Linked DNA regions of Homo sapiens: region 2 is linked to region 1. Evidence: fine-mapped expression QTL. Tissue or cell type: blood mononuclear cells. Region 1 holds a variant in brackets; the other region holds the start of a gene. All regions are shown on one strand. Distances are from middle to middle.

Region 1 (8,000 bases):
ATTGGTCAGGCTGGTCTCGAACTCCTGACCTCAGGTGATCTGCTTCCCTTGGCTTCCCAAAGTGCTGGGATTACAGGCGTGAGATACCGCACCCGGCCTCTCAGCACCATTTAATGTGAGCTTTACTGAGCATCTACTCTGTGCCAATCCCTGTGAATGAGGCAGATGCCATCCCTGCTGCGGGTCCAACTCAATCCAGTGTGTGTGTGTGGGGCGGGGGCAGGGAGACACAAAATAAACAAGAATTTCAGATAGTTCTATGTGCTTCAAAGACAATATTAAATTGGTGCAAAAGTAATTGCAGTTTTGCAATTACTTTCAATGGCAAAAACTGTAATTACTTTTCTTTCTTTCTTTCTTTCTTTCTTTTTTTTTTTTTTGAGACGGAGTCTTGCTCTGTCGCCCAGGCTATAGTGCAATGGCGCGATCTCGGCTCACTGCAACCTCTGCCTCCTGGGTTCAAGCGATTCTCCTGCCTCAGCCTTCTGAGTAGCTGGGATTACAGGTGCGCACCACCACACCTGGCTAACTTCTGTGTTTTTAGTAGAGACAGGGTTTCACCATGTTGGTAAGGCTGGTCTCAAACTCCTGACCTCAGGTGATCCGCCCTCCTCGGCCTCCTAAAGTGTTGGGATTACAGGCGTGAGCCACCATGCCCAGCCTATAATTACTTGTCACCAACCTTAACAGACGGGGGTGACATTTTCAGAGATACTGAAGGATACCAAAGAGCCATGGGGAGAATGGCATCCTGGGTTAAGGGAACAGTCAGTGCAAAGGCCCTGAGGCAGGATGTGCCTAGCAAGTCCGGGGAACAGTGAGGTGGCTGATGTGGCCCTGAGGCCCAGCTGGTATTCGTTCTGCCCTCATACTCTCTTGAGCCACTCTGAGGCCTCACAAGTTAGCCTCAGTGGCCCTCAAATCCCTGCAACCCGGCCAGGCATGGTGGCTCCTGCCTGTAATCCTAGCACTTTAGGAGGCTGAGGTGGGTGGATCACAGGGTCAGGAGTTTGAGATCAGCCTGGCCAATATGGTGAAACCCCATCTCTACTAAAAATACAAAAAATTAGCCAGGGGTGGTGGTGGGCGCCTATAGTCCCAGCTACTTGGGAGGCTGAGCCAGGAGAATCGCTTGAACCCAGGAGGAGGAGGTTGCAGTGAGCTGAGATTGCGCCACTGCACTCCCGCCTGGGCGACAGAATGAGACTCCGTCTCAAAAAAAAAAAAAAATTAGCCGGGCATGGTGGCGCACCCCTGTAGTCCCAGCTACTCAGGAGGCTGAGGCAGGAGAATTGCTTGAACCTGGGAGGCGGAGGTTGCGGTGAGCCGAGATCGTGCCATTGCACTCCAGCCTCGGGGACAGAGCAAGACTCCATCTCAAAAAAAAAAGTGGATTATCACAGGCATTGTTCTTCTCTGGATCTCTTTCTTGGGGTAGTTTCCTCACCATCTGGATCAGCCCCTGGGAATGTCAGTCTTTGGGAAGGCTCCAGTGAGACAAGGCCAGAACCTTTGAGACCAGCTTGGAGGTCACATGTGATTGTGTAAGGGTTGGCCTGGGCCAGAACGCCATTTCAAAAATCTGGAAAGTTCCCAGCAAATCCAGAGGTCCCATTTCTCCTTAGACACCAGGCCATCTCCTGGCATGGGAACATAGGAAGACCCCATCTCTACACACACACACACACACAAAAATAGGTGGGTATGGTAGCACGCACCTGTAGCCCCAGCTACTCTGGAGGCTGAGGTGGGAGGATTGCTTTAGCCCAGGAGTTTGAGGCTACAGTGAGCCATGATCACACCACCACACTCTAGTCTGGACAACAGAGCAAGACCGTGTCTCAAACAAAAACAAATAAAAAAACAAAAACAAAACCACACACAAAAAAACCCCAGTCAATCTGGCCAGGCATGGTTCACGCTTGTAATCCCGGCACTTTGGGAAGCCAAAGTGGGAGAAGCCCTTGAGCTCAGGAGTTGGAGACCAGTCTGGGCAACATAGTGAGACCCTGACTCTACTAAAAAAAAAAAAAAAAAAAAAAAAAATTGCCAAGTATGTTGGCTTGTGCCTCTGGTCACAGCTACTTGGGAGGCTGAGGAGAGAGGATCCCTTGAGCCCAGGAGGTCAAGGCTGCCGTGAACTATGATCGCACCACTGCGCTCCAGCCTGGGCAACACAGCAAGACCCTATCTCCAAACAAAAACAAAAACAGCCAATCTGGACATAGCTGAGCCACATTCCTGCAGGGTTTCTGTTGGCTGGATTGAGTGATGGTCACCCCTGTTAGGTGGGACATCTGCCCTCTGCTCCACCATAAGCCCCACTTTCCCAGCTGAAACTGGTATTGACAGTGAGGGGTCTGGAGCTGGTGGCTCAGATTCAAAAGCCTCATTCTGCCCCTTCTCAGTCGTGTGGTACAAGGTTAAGCTACCACTCATTCGATGCCTCAGTTTCCCCATCAGTAAAATGGAGATAACAATAATACTAACTTCATGGGTTGTTGTGAGAATTTAATGATACGATCCAAGGCCGGGCGCGGTGGCTCACGCCTGTAATCCCAGCACTTTGGGAGGGCAAGGCGGGCAGATCACCTGAGGTTAGGAGTTCCAGACCAGCCAGGCCAACATGGAGAAACACTGTCTCTACTGAAAATACAAAATTAGCTGGGCGTGGTAGTGCATGCCTGTAATCCCAGCTACTTGGGAGGCTGAGGCAGGAGAATCGCTTGAACCTGGGAGGCGGAGGTTGTGGTGAGCCAAGATTGCGCCATCGCACTCCAGCCTGGACAACAAGAGTGAAACTCTGTCTCAGAAAAAAAACAACAACAAAAAAATGATACGATCCACATAAAATGCTTAGATATACAGTAAGTGCTCAATAAATGCTCCATATTATTACTATTATGATTAGTATTGCCTGCCTAGCCCCTGAGGGCATTGGAATTGGTAATCCAGGGCCTGAACAAGTCCACTGTCAGGGTCTCAGAACATCAACATCCATTTATTGAGCACTTGCTGTATACTCTGACTGTGCTAAGGGTTAATGGATCTGCCTTGTCACTTCCCCGCTCCCACCAACCCTCATTTCCTTCCTCATTCACTACAATCTAGCCATCCTTACTGCTCTACTGTTAGCCCAAGCATGGTCTTGCCTCAGGGCCTTTGCACCTGCTATTCCCCCTGCCTGGAATGCTCTTTCCCCAGACATTGCATGGAATGATCCCTTACTTTCTTCAAGTCTCCCCTTAAAAGCTACACAAGGGTAAGGATTTGGGTCTGTTTTGTTTATTGTTATATTGCTACACCCAGCACAGGGCTGTGCACGTTACAGGCACTTAAGAAACAGACAATGAATGAACGGATCCACCCAGCAAAGTGGATTCCTGGTCTTACGGCCAGGAGACACTGGGCAGGATTGGCGCCCCCACCTGGCTGGCTCTATGTCCTCCCTCAGGTTTCTTCCCACATTGAGACCCTGCATCTCTCACCTTGTGGACACGGGTGATGACCTCCAGGCCCACAGAGCCCACCAAGGCAGTGATGTCGTCCAGGAAGCGTCCGGGGAAGCGCAGCTTGCGGGGTGTGTCTAGTCGCTGGCCAAGCAGCAGGTGCAGCGCCATACTCTTCACCTGGGGGTGGGGTGAGAGGGCTGTGGGTGGGATTTGAAGGGCTGTGGGTAGGACTTGAAGGGCTGTGGGTGGGGCTTGAAGGGCTGTGGGTGGGGCTTGAAGGACTGTGGGTGGGGCTTGAAGGGCTGTGGGTGGAGGAGGCTTGACAGGAGGGGCGGGGCTTTATTAGCAATGGAGGTGGGCTGAAGGTAGGTTTGAGCCCTGTAGCTGCAGGTAGAAGCTGGGGCCTGAGGGATGTGGGTGGGGCTTGTGACCTATGGATGGGGCTTAAGAAAGCCGTGGGCAGATCCTGTGAGCATCCCAGGCAAAGTGTAGAGAGTGGGAAGGCTGAGAGGATGTGGGAGGGGCTTATGCGGGTCTCCCCAGGGCAAGTCAGAGGTGGGACAAAGGGTGGGGCTTGAGGCACTGGATTTGAAGGGAGCTTTATTGGAGGCCCAGAGGGGATGCAGCCAGCAGGCCCTGGGAAGGAGGCTTCAAATAACCTATTGAAGAGTTTTAGGGATGTGTCTTACCTTGATCAGAAAGCTTTCCCTCTTTTTTTTTTTTTTTTTTTGAGATGGAGTCTTGCCGTCACCCAGGCTGGTGTGCAGTGGCATAATCTTGACTCACTGCAACCTCTGCCTACTGGGTTCAAGCGATTCTCCTGCCTCAGTCTCCCATGTAGCTGAGATTACAGGCACGCACTACTACGCCCGGCTAACTTTTGTATTTTTAGTAGAGATGGGGTTTCACCATGTTGGCCAGGCTGGTCTCAAACTCCTGACCTCAAGTGATCCACCCGCCTCGGCCTCCCAAAGTGCTGGGATTACAGGCGTGAGCCACTGTGCCTGACCACAGCTTTCTCTCTCTATCCAGGAATATCTCCTGCAGGATGCAGGTCTCCTGTCTAGGTGAGGGTCTCTTAATGGTTTCTCTCCTTAAAGAGTCTCATGGGGAAGGGTGGCTCTCTCTAAAGGTGGTTTCAGGTACAGTCTCTCCAGGGAGACACCACCTTAAGTGCCTCTCACCTCCCTAGGTTGTGGGGGGGGGTCTCTTGGGGCCATTTCTCAAATATCTCAGGTGCAATTTCAGGGGGCTTCTCTCTTTTTTTTTTTTTTTTTGAGACAGAGTCTCGCTCTGTCGCCCAGGCTGGAGTGCAGTGGCACGATCTCGGCTCACTGCAAGCTCCTCCTCCTGGGTGCACGCCATTCTTCTGCCTCAGCCTCCCGAGTATCTGGGACTACAGGCGCCTGCCACCACTCCTGGCTAATTTTTTTTTGTATTTTTAGTAGAGACGGGGTTTCACCGTGTTAGCCAGGATGGTCTCGATCTCCTGACCTCGTGATCCGCCCGCCTCGGCCTCCCAAAGTGTTGGGATTACAGGTGT[G/A]AGCCACTATGCCTGGCCAGGGGGCTTCTCTCTTTAAAAAAGGAAGGGGCTCCACTGGGGGTCTCTTGCCACCAGGCAGGGAGGAGGGGGTCTCACCATGAGCTGGAAGAAGAACCAGGCGTGCTGGAGGATGGCCTCGCGTACGGCACTGCTGCTGACCACCCACTGCAGAGCCAGCTCCTCGTGAAGCAGCTGGGGACAGAGGCAGGGGTCACAGAGTGCGAGGTGCCACCCCTTCCCGTACCCCCTCTGGAGACATGCCAGGGGAAGATGCAGCTGGAGGGCTCGGGGTTAGTGCAGCAGGAGCCAGGCAGGAGGAGGGGGACAAGAGGAGTGGAAGTGCCCTTTCCCTGGGCTCGCCAGACCCCCCTGGACTCTGGATGGGGGAGGAGCACTGGACCCCTTTGCTGGGGACCAGGACAAAAATAGCGTCATCCGCACCTCCCCCCACTACCTTCTGCACAGTGGGTCTCAGCTGGGTGGCTGGTGGGGCCGAGGAGGAACCCTCGAGGTAGGAGGAGGCTCGGCTAGAGTTGCAGTCGATGGCCTATGATGGGATGTGATGGCGAGGAGAAGGTTAGTGTGGATGAGGTGAAGGGGTATGTGGTTGGAGGAAAGACGTGTTCACACAGACAGGGATGGGGAAAAGAGGTAGGTTAGTGTGAATATAGAGAGAGAAATGCTTCCACATGGATGGACCAGGGCCATGGATGCCAATGGGGACAGGCAAGAAAGAGAGATGGGCCGGCGTGGGTTGGGAGGGGAGGCTGGTTGGAATGGCCAGGGTGCTGTGGGAGTAGACGGGGCAGTGGAGGCAGGGACAAATAAAAGAGTCGCTGGAGAGAGCTGGGTGAGTCAAGATCAAGGTGTGTGGGTATGGGAGAAGAACGTGAGGCTGGGCGGGGTGGCTCAATACCTGTTATCCCAGCACTTTGGGAGGCTGGGGCAGGAAGACTGCTCAAACCCAGGAGTTTAAGATCAGCCTGGGCAACATAGTCAGACATTGACTCTACTAAGACAAAAACAAACAAACAAACAAAAATATATATATATGGCTGGGCCTGGTGGCGTGTGCCTGTAGTCCCAGCTGCTCAGGAGGCCAAAGCAGGAGGATTGCTTGACCCTGGGACTTGGAGGTTGCGGTGAGCTGTGATGGTACCACTGCACTCTAGCTTGGGTGACAGAGCAAGACTCCATCTCAAAAAAAAAAAAAAAAAAAAAAGGAGGATGCTGTAATCCTAGCACTTTGGGAGGCCGAGGCAGGTAGATCACGAGGTCAGGAGATCGAGACCATCCTAGTCAACATGGTGAATGGTGAAACCCCGTCTCTACTAAAAATACAAAAATTAGCTGGGCGTGGTGGCAGGCACCTGTAATTCCAGCTACTTGGGAGGCTGAGGCAGGAGAATCGCTTGAACCTGGGAGGCAGAGCCTGCAGTGAGCCGAGATTGCACCATTGCACTCCAGCCTGAGTGATAAGAGCGAGACTCCGTCTCAAAAAAAAAAGAACGTGATGGAGGAGGTGAGAATAACAATGAAAACACAGTACGCCAGTGACCAGTGACAGCAGTGCAACCACAACAGGCAGGAGGAGTGTGGATGGAGTGGGACCGAGAACACACGAAGGCTGGGAATGGGTACATGGTGTGTGGGGTGAAGGCAGAGGAGATGAAATCAGTGTAGACAGCAAGAATGTGTGTGGCCAGAGAAGGTGAGGGTGAGTGTAGACGAGGTGTAGAGTGTGACCGAGTCAGTGAGTCTAGAGGACAGAGAGGAGGATGCAGAGGTGGAGGAGGGTGAGTGTGGACAGAGGAGGTTAAACACAAGATGGGGAAGGAGGAGAAAGACAAGGCAGGAAGATAAGGACAGAGGAGGTGAGATGTTGGTGAGGTGCCAGGAATAGCAGAGAGAGCCCAAGGTTCCAGGCCTGGCCCTGCCCAAGCCTGGCTTGGGCCTCAGTATCCCCATCTGTGAAATGGGTATAGGCAGAGGAGTTCAAGCTCCACTCTCGCTTCCTCCTTCGCTGGTTAGGGGGTGAGGCTGCTCGCAGGAACAGGAGGTCTGATGACAGAGACGACCCAACCCTGGGACCTACTCTGACACTTGAGGGCTCTCTAGCTACCCCAGTCCCAGCCATACCCTGGCAACTCACTGTGCACCGTGAGGGCCTTCCATTGAAAAGGCCCAGCCTCAGTGTCACCCAGATTTCCAGATTCCCAGCAATCCAAGGAAATGACTGCCCAAAGGCCCCCCCTGCTTGTTCTGCTAGGAGTCCCCTGGGCCTGTCATAGGGTACAGGTTACCTTGGTGATGGGCACAGAGCTGGAATAGGCCCTAGGGCCAAGTGTGTAAGGAAGCAAGCCCTGTGGCCTCCTCTCTGTGCGTACAGTCCTCTGACCTTGGTCCCAATATTTGTACATGCCTTTCCCTCTTCCTGAACACCCACACCCACCCACCCTTCCCTAGCTGACTCTATCTTACCCTTCGGGTCCCAGCAAAAGATGTCACTCCCCTGGAGAAGCCCCCAAGACCACCCAGAGGGAAGCTGGTATTCGGTTGCTACTTGCTTCCTTTCCACGCTGTGTGATCATATACTTATGCATTTGTTTGATCCGTGTCTATTTCCCCAACTAGCTGGAAGCTCAGGGTCAAGGCCAGACCAAGAATCTATCATCCCAACAAAATCCCACTGCAGTGCCCTCAGCCCTAACTCAAGCACAGGCTCAGGACTGCTGGGGGAGCACTATATTTTGAGTCCAAACTGCATCCGAAAATTTGGAGTGTTATCTCCATTTTACAAATGAAGAAACTGAGGCTCAGGAAGATGCATCCAATTGCTCAGAGCATGGGGTGAGCTCATAGCAGAGCTAGGACTTGAACCCAGGTCTGTTTGGAGGCAAAGCGTCCCCCTACACCAGGTACCTGGAAAGAGGCAGGGTAAGGGGAGCTCTTTGTCTAAAATGGGATAGGGGAGCCGAGAGGTTCCATTCCAGCCCTTTGAGAGT
Region 2 (8,000 bases), 31 kb before region 1:
CTGGTAGCTGCAGCGGGCACTGGGCACATTGTCTCCACCACCTCCTGGCTGCGGAACACAGGTGGGCTCTCAGGCCTACCAGGCATTGCCAGGGCCCTCAGCCCTGTGCCGTAAGGCTCCAGGCTCTGGGCCCGCTGTGCGGGGGCGCCAGCGGCTGTGCTGGCCACCACCTCCACCTCCCGTGGCCCTTCTACCACCCGGACTGTATCCACGCGGACCGGGCTGTCCGGCGGTGGCCAGGCCTGGGGCTGGGGGTCAGCCTGCCGGGCCTGAGCTGCCTGCAGCTCCTGCAGCGCCTTCTTGAGCTGGGTCTCCAGCACAGCGACCTTGGCGGCGAGGGCAGCCTCCCCATCAGGCATGCCCAAGTCCCGTTCTCGAACCCAGGTGCCCACACTCCGGGTCTCCAGTGCCACTGGGTCCTCTGGGGGATCGGGGAGGTCCAGGCAGAGCTCGCTGCGACCCCGGCCCGCTGTGGGGTGGCCCAGGAACTTCTGGCTCTTAAGTTGTACTGTGAGCTGCCGCTTTTCCTCCTGGAGCACCGAGAGCTTCACCTGGAGCACAGGGATCAGCTTCACCTGCTCCTCCAGCTGCCGCAGCTTCCGCAGGGCACCCGCCATCTGCTCCCGCACGTGGGCCAGGTGCCCGGCACTGGGAGGCACCGGTGTGGACAGTCCTGAACTCCGTGGTGTCGGGGGTGGCAACCCCACGCCCACCAGGGAGGCTGTCGAGCCGGCCGCACTGGGGGTCAGGGAGCCCAGGCCGGTGGGTGTGGCCGCCTGGTCCTCGAGACGGCGACGGGCATCCAGCAGCGTGCGCTCCACCCGCGGATTGAAGCCACCGCGGGTCTCCAGAGCACCATACTGAGGGTAGAAGCCACGGCCGCAGTAGGAATAGGCTGAGTGGCGGCTGTCCCCACTGGCATTGGAGCACAGCGACTCAGTGGACGTCCACCAGGAGCCAGGGCCACGGGGCAGCGAGCTCAGGCGGGGGCGGCGCTGCACTGCCACGCGTCGCAGCGTGTGGCCCTTCTCGATGTCATCCACGTACTTGAGGAAGTCCAGGTCCAGGCGGTAGCCATAGGGGGTCTCCACGGAGTAGGGTGGATCGGGGTCCTTGGCAGGGAAGGCAGGTGGGGAGGCTGGGCCAGGGGTCCCTGGGGATGGGAGAAACACCAGGACCTTTGAATCCTCTTGTCCCCATTCTCAGGGTGAAGACTGATGCCTGGGGAGAGTTGGGGTTTATTTGCCGAAGAGATGGGAGCCCACCTGGTACTCAACCGCGTCTGCTCTCAGACCCTCCAGAGCAGGGCTATGCCTCCCCTTCAGACTCCCGGCGCTAGGCTATGTCGCCTCTCAAATCCCCCAGGACAGGGCTCTATCCCTCGGCTTAGACTACCCCCTTTTTCCGGTAAGACTCTGCCTCCCCCTTCAGACCCTCCCAGGGCAGGACTCTGCCTCCTCCCTCAGACCTCTAATTGTTGGGCTGTGTCCCACCCTCAAAGTCCCCAGGGCAAGGTCCCCAGCCCCCTCAGGCCTCCAGAACTGAAGCTCCCCGGGGCAGGGCCCTCTTCCCTGAGTCCCCTGACCTGGGAAGGGAGCAGGCACGTGCAGGACCTGGGCCATCTTCTTTTCTACAGATGCTCCTTGGAAGTCACTTGAGGGACTGCGAGTCAGACTGCCTGCAGCACCGGCTGAGGCTTACCTGGGGAAAGAGAACCACGGCGCCGGGAGTTAGGAGTCTGTAGGGGGAGGGGAGGAGATGAGGCCAGCCCCCTCCACAGCTGGTTCACCCAGCCCCCCAACCCAGGTCTGGGACCCACTCATAGACGCACACCCAGCCTGGCTGCGGAAGGGCCCCCCCCGACCCCCTCCCCCCCGCAGGTCTGGAACAAAGAAACCAAACCTCACTGCCTGCTTGCACATCTGTCCAGGCCCTGGACAGGCTCCAGCTGTTCCCATAGCCCAGCCTCCACATAGCCCTGGGGCTGGGGGGCCCCAAGCCCAACAGGCCCCACCCTTCCTGCACCCCCTCCCCTCAGCCCAGGCCCGGAGCTGGCCACACGGAAGGATGGGGGTTGAGGCGCTAAGGGGTTGGGGAAGAAGGGAACCTCGTCTTCCTGCAAGGATCTGAGGAGACAGAGACGCAGGGGGACAAAGAGAGGCAAAGCATGGCGAAGGGGACCCCCAGTGACCCCAAAGCTGAGAGCTGGGTCAGGCCTGGACTGGGTCGGGGGGAAGGGGTAGGGAAAGTTGGGGAGGCAGCTAGGAGTGAAGCCTTTCCCCTTTATGGAAACAATTTTCTCTAAAAATAAACAGTTTCACTGCCGGGCTACACAGAACTTCCTGCCCGCCTAGGATGCGTCCGGGCCCAGGGGCGCAGTAGGGATAGAGGGCCGGGTGGAGGCCCAGGAAGTCCTGGGGGTGGAGGGGAGGAAGTAAGAGGGGGCGCCTGGAGGCTGCAAAAGGGAGGGACAGTCAGAGCCTCTCACTAAACCCCCCTCAGCCTTGGAGGCCGGCCAGGGCTCTTTTGTCCCCAATATAACCCATCTGAACTTGGCTGGTCCTTTCTGTTATCTGACCTCCAGCCATCATGCTGCAGAGGCCCCAGCCCATCCCACCATCAGAGTAAATCCTTTCTGGCCTTTGAGTGCTGGGGCCGGCAGGTACCTTGGGAGGATGGGCCAGGTAGGGCACCTGCTGGGCATGAAGGCAGGGCTGGGGCTCCAGGGGCACCTGAGCTTGTCCTTGTTCTCCCGTCCTGTCTTGCTTTGTCTCTCTCCAAGTCTCTCTGTGTCTCTCCACGTCTCTCTGTGTCTCTCCACGTCTCTGTCTCTCTGCGTCTCTCTCCACGTCTCTGTCCTTCTGCGTCTCTCTCCGTGTCTCTCTCCCTGTCTTTCCACGTCTCTGTCTTCGCTTCTCTGTCTTTCAACACCTGGAACACATGGTCACCAATTGCAGGAAATTCCGTTTTCCATTTGCCTGGAGGCTCACCCCTGAGCAACAGAAAGTTGATTGAAAATATTTTCTGGCCACCAAAGAGAGATGGAGAAGCAGGGAGCAAGCGGGATTGGAGCAGGATTGGAATAGCCGAGCGGGGTGGGCTGGGGGTGGGGGAAGTGAGGGTGCTGCTGGGTAAATAGTATAGTAACAGTAATACTAACATCAACTCTTTTTTTTTTTTTTTTCTGAGACGGAGTTTTGCTCTTGTCGCCCAGGCTGGAGTGCAATGGCGCGATCTCAGCTCACGGCAACCTCTGCCTCCCAGGTTCAAGCGATTCTCCTGCCTCAGCCTCCTGAGTAGCTGGGATTACAGGCACCTGCCACCACGCCTAGCTAATTCTGTATTTTTAGTAGAGATGGTGTTTCTCCATGTTGGTCAGGCTGGTCTCGAACTCCTGACCTCAGGTGATCCGCCCGCCTTGGCCTCCCAAAGTGCTGGGATTACAGGCATGAGCCACTGCACCCAGCCTAACATCAACTCTTTTAATTGTCATGACAATTCTATGAGATGGGCACTTATCGCCCCGTTTCACAGACAGGGGATGCAGAGGGTACAGAAAGGTACAGTGGCTTCCTCGGGGTCACTGGGGCCATGGGGAAGTGGCTGGGCCTGAACATGAACCTAAGCCTGGTGGATCCCCCCACTGCCCACCAAGCCACCACCCTCAGACTCCACATCAGATATCTCTACCCGTTTCCCAGATACGGAGACTGAGGTCTGAGGGTACTCAGTCATCTCACCGCCCTCGATGAGGACCAGCACGTCCCGAGTAAGGGGAAGAGAAAGGAGACGAGGGGGTGTGGTGGGGGAGATGGATGTCTGTGGCTGAGACCCTTCTCTCGCCATGGGACCCCTGGGGAATGGGGAAGGGGTGACAGGATAAGACAGAGATGGAGAGACTGGAGCCTATAAGAGGGGACAGGTAGGGAGCGCAGGGAAGGGGCGCGGGTCTCCCCAACCCACCACCCAAGACCGGCCTGCACATCGCGGAGGTCGGTGGTGGTGGTGGGGGGGGGTCTTCCCGCCCCAAACTCGGGGTGGGGGGAGGCGAGAAGGACCCCGCCCCGTGCAGAGAGGGGGCGGGGCCTGTGGGATCCCGGGCTAATGGCAAACAGCTGCCGCTCCCCACGCCGGCCCAGCCGCCAAGCCCAGGCCCAGCCCGGCCGGACGCCCGGCCGCCTTCCCGCCGTCTGGGGCATGGCCGCGGAGGAGGGCGAGGGGGGACAGTGCGGGGAGAGGGCAGAGCCGGGGAGGAACAGAGGCAGAAAGTGGGACAGAGACAGGGGAGAGCGGGCAGAGGGGAGCCAAGACAGGAGAAACGGGCAGGGCACGAGGAATCGATGGGGGGTACTGGGAGGAATCGATGGGGGTATGGGGTCAAAGACGAGGAGGGGGCAGGGACGCGGGGACAGACACTCCAAGTCTGGAAAGTTTGGGCACAGAAGGTGGAGTTGGAGGCAGCGGCTCGTTGAGACCAGCGAGGTCGTGTCCCAGGGTTGGAGGCGGGGGGTAGGGTAGTAGGTGTGTGTGGAGGGGGTGCACACTCGATCCCCGAACCAGACTTGAACCCCTACCCAGCCCCGGGTCCCACTCGCCTTGCGCGCTCCGGCCGCTGCCTTCCCTGGGTCCCGCCGCCCGAGCGTCTTCGCGCGCGCCGCAGCCTGGGCGCCCGGCCCTCGGAGGTGGCTCCGCCCGCACCACGCCCCCTCCGGCTGGTCCCGCCCCCCCAGCCGGCACCGCCCCCTCCAGCCGCCCGGGCGCCCCGGCCGCGGTGGGGGGTGGGGATGGAGAGACGCTGGTTGGAGACTGGATCTCACCTGGACAGCAGGTGTGTGTGCGCGCCGGGGTGTCCGGCCTCGTCCTTCCTTCCTCCCTAAGTCCCCGAGGCAGGGTCCTCCCACTGCCGGCCTCCCCCCCACCGCCTGCTGTCCCTGGGCCGCTGCGGGGGGCGGAACGGCTCGGCGGCGGGAGGGGGTGGAGCTGGCCGGGGCCCAGCTCGGGGAGGGCGCGCGGGGCGGGCGCGGCAGCGGGAGGTCACCCCTCCCCCAGGCGGCCCAGGGCTGGAAGCGGCCCAGCGCAGTCCTGGCACACGGTGGCGTGACCGCCGCGCGAGAAGGGAGGCTGCAGAGTCCTGGGCGCCGGCGCCAGCCAGACCTGCATTCCCATCCCAGACCCACCAAACTTTTGCTGCTCTGTGCCTCAGTTTATTCATCTGTAAAATGGAGATGATCATGTTAGCTACCTGATAGGAGCGTTGAGAAGATTCACTGACCATTAGGAAGGGGCCTAACCATCAGGAAGGAGGCCCTTCGGGTTAAAAACTCTCATAAATGGAGTGGCCTACTTTTGCAGAGATCTTTCTGGGAGCCCTTTTAGTACACAGCCAGCCACTCAGCAAGGGCTTAATAAATATTATTAAGCCGGCGAGGTGGCTCACACCTGTAATCTCAGTGCTTAGGGAGGCCAAGGCAAGAGGACTGCTTGAACTCAGGAGTTCGAGACCAGCCTGGGCAACATAGCAAGACCCTGTCTATGCAAAAAAATTTTTAAGTGAAAAAAAATTAGGCCAGGCGCAGTGGCTCATGCCTGTAATCGTAGCACTTTGGGAGGCCAAGGTGGGCGGATTATTTGAGCCAAGGAGTTGGAGACCAGCTTTGGCAATATGGTAAGACGCCATCTCTACAAAAAACAAAATACAAAAAACCACCTGGGGCCGAGAAATGGCTCATGCCTGTAATCCCAGCACTTTGGGAGTCCGAGGTGGGTGGATCATCTGAGGTCAGGAGTTCAAGACCAGCCTGGCCAACATGGTGAAACCCCTTCTCTACTAAAAATACAAAAACTATCCTGGCATGGTGGTGCACATCTGTAATCCCAGCTACTCGGGAGGCTGAGGTATGAGAATAACTTGAATCTGGGAGGTGGAGGTTGCCGTGAGCCGAGATTGCACCACTGCACTGCAGCCTGGGTGACAGAGTGAAACTCTGTCTAAAAAAAAAAAAAAGAAAAAGAAAAAAAAGCCAGGCACAGTGGCATGTGCCTATAATCTCTGCTACTCAGGAGGCTTGAGCCCCGGAGTTTGAGGCTGCAGTGAGCTATGACTGTGACACTGCATTCCAGCCTGGGGGACTGAGTGAGAGCGTCTGTTAAAAACAAACAAACAAAAACCAGGTATTGTTATTGCAGGTAAGCATGTGACATTATTTGTGTGTTGCCTTCCCTACTAGAACATCAGCTCCACAAGGGCAGGAATTTTTGCCTGTTGTCACCACGATGTCCCTGGCACCCAGTATGTTCTTGGTGTCCCCATTGATGATGCAGGGATGTGTGGATATGGGGCAGTGGACTGTGAGCATGTGATGAGCATGTGACCCAGCCCCTAGTGACCGCACCACATGGCACAGGTTGCTTATAAAAACCATTTTAAATTAAAAAAGGGAGGAAGCATCAGTGCACACAGATGGGGACACAGGGGCAGAGGGCCCAGCCCCAAGTACAGTGTGGTCACCCCACAGCCCAGTGGGCACCAGGGCAGACTCCCCTCGCAGCACAGACAGCTGAGGCCCGGGTGCTGGTTCCTCTAGGTACAGCTTTGGTCCTTGTGGGCTCAGAGGTCTGCCTTTCGGAAACTTGCTCTGTTCAAGGAGTTCCTGGAAAAAGAATGAGGGTGGGTCAGCATGGCCATGGGGCCCCCAACTCCATAGACCTCCCAGCCCACATCCTCTTCCTCCTCCTCCTCGTCTTCCTCCAAGGATCCTTCTGGGATCTCTCCTGTCCCTGATCTGGCTGTGGGATTCTCCGATTCTCTCTTGCAGTCCACCACGGAAGGTATGAATCATCCCCATTTTACAGATGTAGAAACTGAGGCTCAGAAAGATGAATTCATGTATCTGGGAAATGACTGCTCAGAGCCTGCCCTGCCTTTGTACATCTGGATGACATATTCAGATGCTTATGCAAAATTGAAGCCACCGCAGCCAGGCGTGGTGGTGGCTCATGCTGTAATTCCAGCACTTTAGGAGGGCAAAGCGGATGGATCACCTGAGATCAGGAGTTCGAGACCAGTCTGGCCAACATGGTGAAACCCTGTCTCTACTAAAAATACAAAACATTAGCCAGGCGTGGTGGCAGATGCCTGTAATCCCAGTTACTCAGGAGGCTGAGGCAGGAGACTCGCTTGAATCTGGGAGGCGGAGGTTGCAGTGAGCCAAGACTGTGCCAACTGCACTCCAGCCTGGGCAACAGAGGGAGAGTCTCTCAAAAAAAAAAACAAAAAAAAAACCGGAAACAAAACAAAGTCCAAGCTACCAGCAAACATGTTGCTGTGTATGTGTACAACAGCCCCCATCCTGTACCTGTCCTGGTCTGCCTCTGCATCCCCTCTCTAGTCTCTAGGATGGGGGCACTAGGTCAGGCACCTGAGGCCGGGTGGGGTGGGTGCCATCAGCTGGGGCAGGCGCTGGGTAAGCAGGGGCTGCAGAGCCTCCCGCAGGCGGCAGTAGTTGCGCTCCAGCTCACGGTGGTACTCCTTCTGGTCCGGCCCAATCAGGGCCTTATTTTTCCGCAGCGCATCCTCACATCTGAGGGCCAGAGGGTGGGAGATGCTCAGAGACTCGCACACGGGACTGAAAGCAAGACTAGGGGTGGGGGCACCCATAAGGCGGGACCAGGCCTGCAGAAAGACCCGCAATAGGAGGTCAGGTTGGGAGAGTGGACTTAATGGGAATCGGGCAGATGGGGGAGCCATGCAGAGATCAGATGGGCAGAGAGCAGGCCTATGCAGGTTAGGCAGACACGAGACCCCTCCTGGGGGGTTTTGCGCCTACTTCTTGCAGAAGTCCTTGAAGCAGAGCCGCAATTTGTTGTGATGCCGGAAGAGCTTGGGGTCTTCCGGGATCTCTGCTAAAAACACCTGGGCCACCTCCAGGGGACCCTGTGGGGTGAGAGGGACTGGTGAGCCAGCCTGCATGGCACCTGGAGTCCCCCGTGCGGCTTGCATC

What was found. PIP is the estimated chance that this variant, and not a neighbour inherited with it, causes the effect.
Region 2: it holds the start of KANK2, and the variant in region 1 is fine-mapped to the expression of KANK2 in blood mononuclear cells (TOPMed, PIP above 0.99).

The regions. Positions count from the first base shown.
Region 1 is chr19:11,223,849-11,231,848 of GRCh38, forward strand. It overlaps DOCK6 (dedicator of cytokinesis 6), which reads right to left. Exons shown (of 48, transcript NM_020812.4): 23 at 5,092-5,187; 24 at 3,489-3,629. Among named protein-coding and RNA genes, the nearest start is that of ANGPTL8, 12 kb to the right of the region's middle. The variant G/A (reference allele first, on the strand shown) is at 4,996.
Region 2 is chr19:11,192,890-11,200,889 of GRCh38, forward strand. It overlaps KANK2 (KN motif and ankyrin repeat domains 2), which reads right to left and starts at 4,656. Exons shown (of 13, transcript NM_001136191.3): 1 at 4,596-4,656; 2 at 2,733-2,931; 3 at 1,586-1,701; 4 at 1-1,153. The coding sequence starts at 1,622. DOCK6 (dedicator of cytokinesis 6) reads right to left here. Exons shown (of 48, transcript NM_020812.4): 46 at 7,827-7,933; 47 at 7,419-7,580; 48 at 6,406-6,650. The coding sequence ends at 6,608. RefSeq lists a silencer at 4,520-5,139.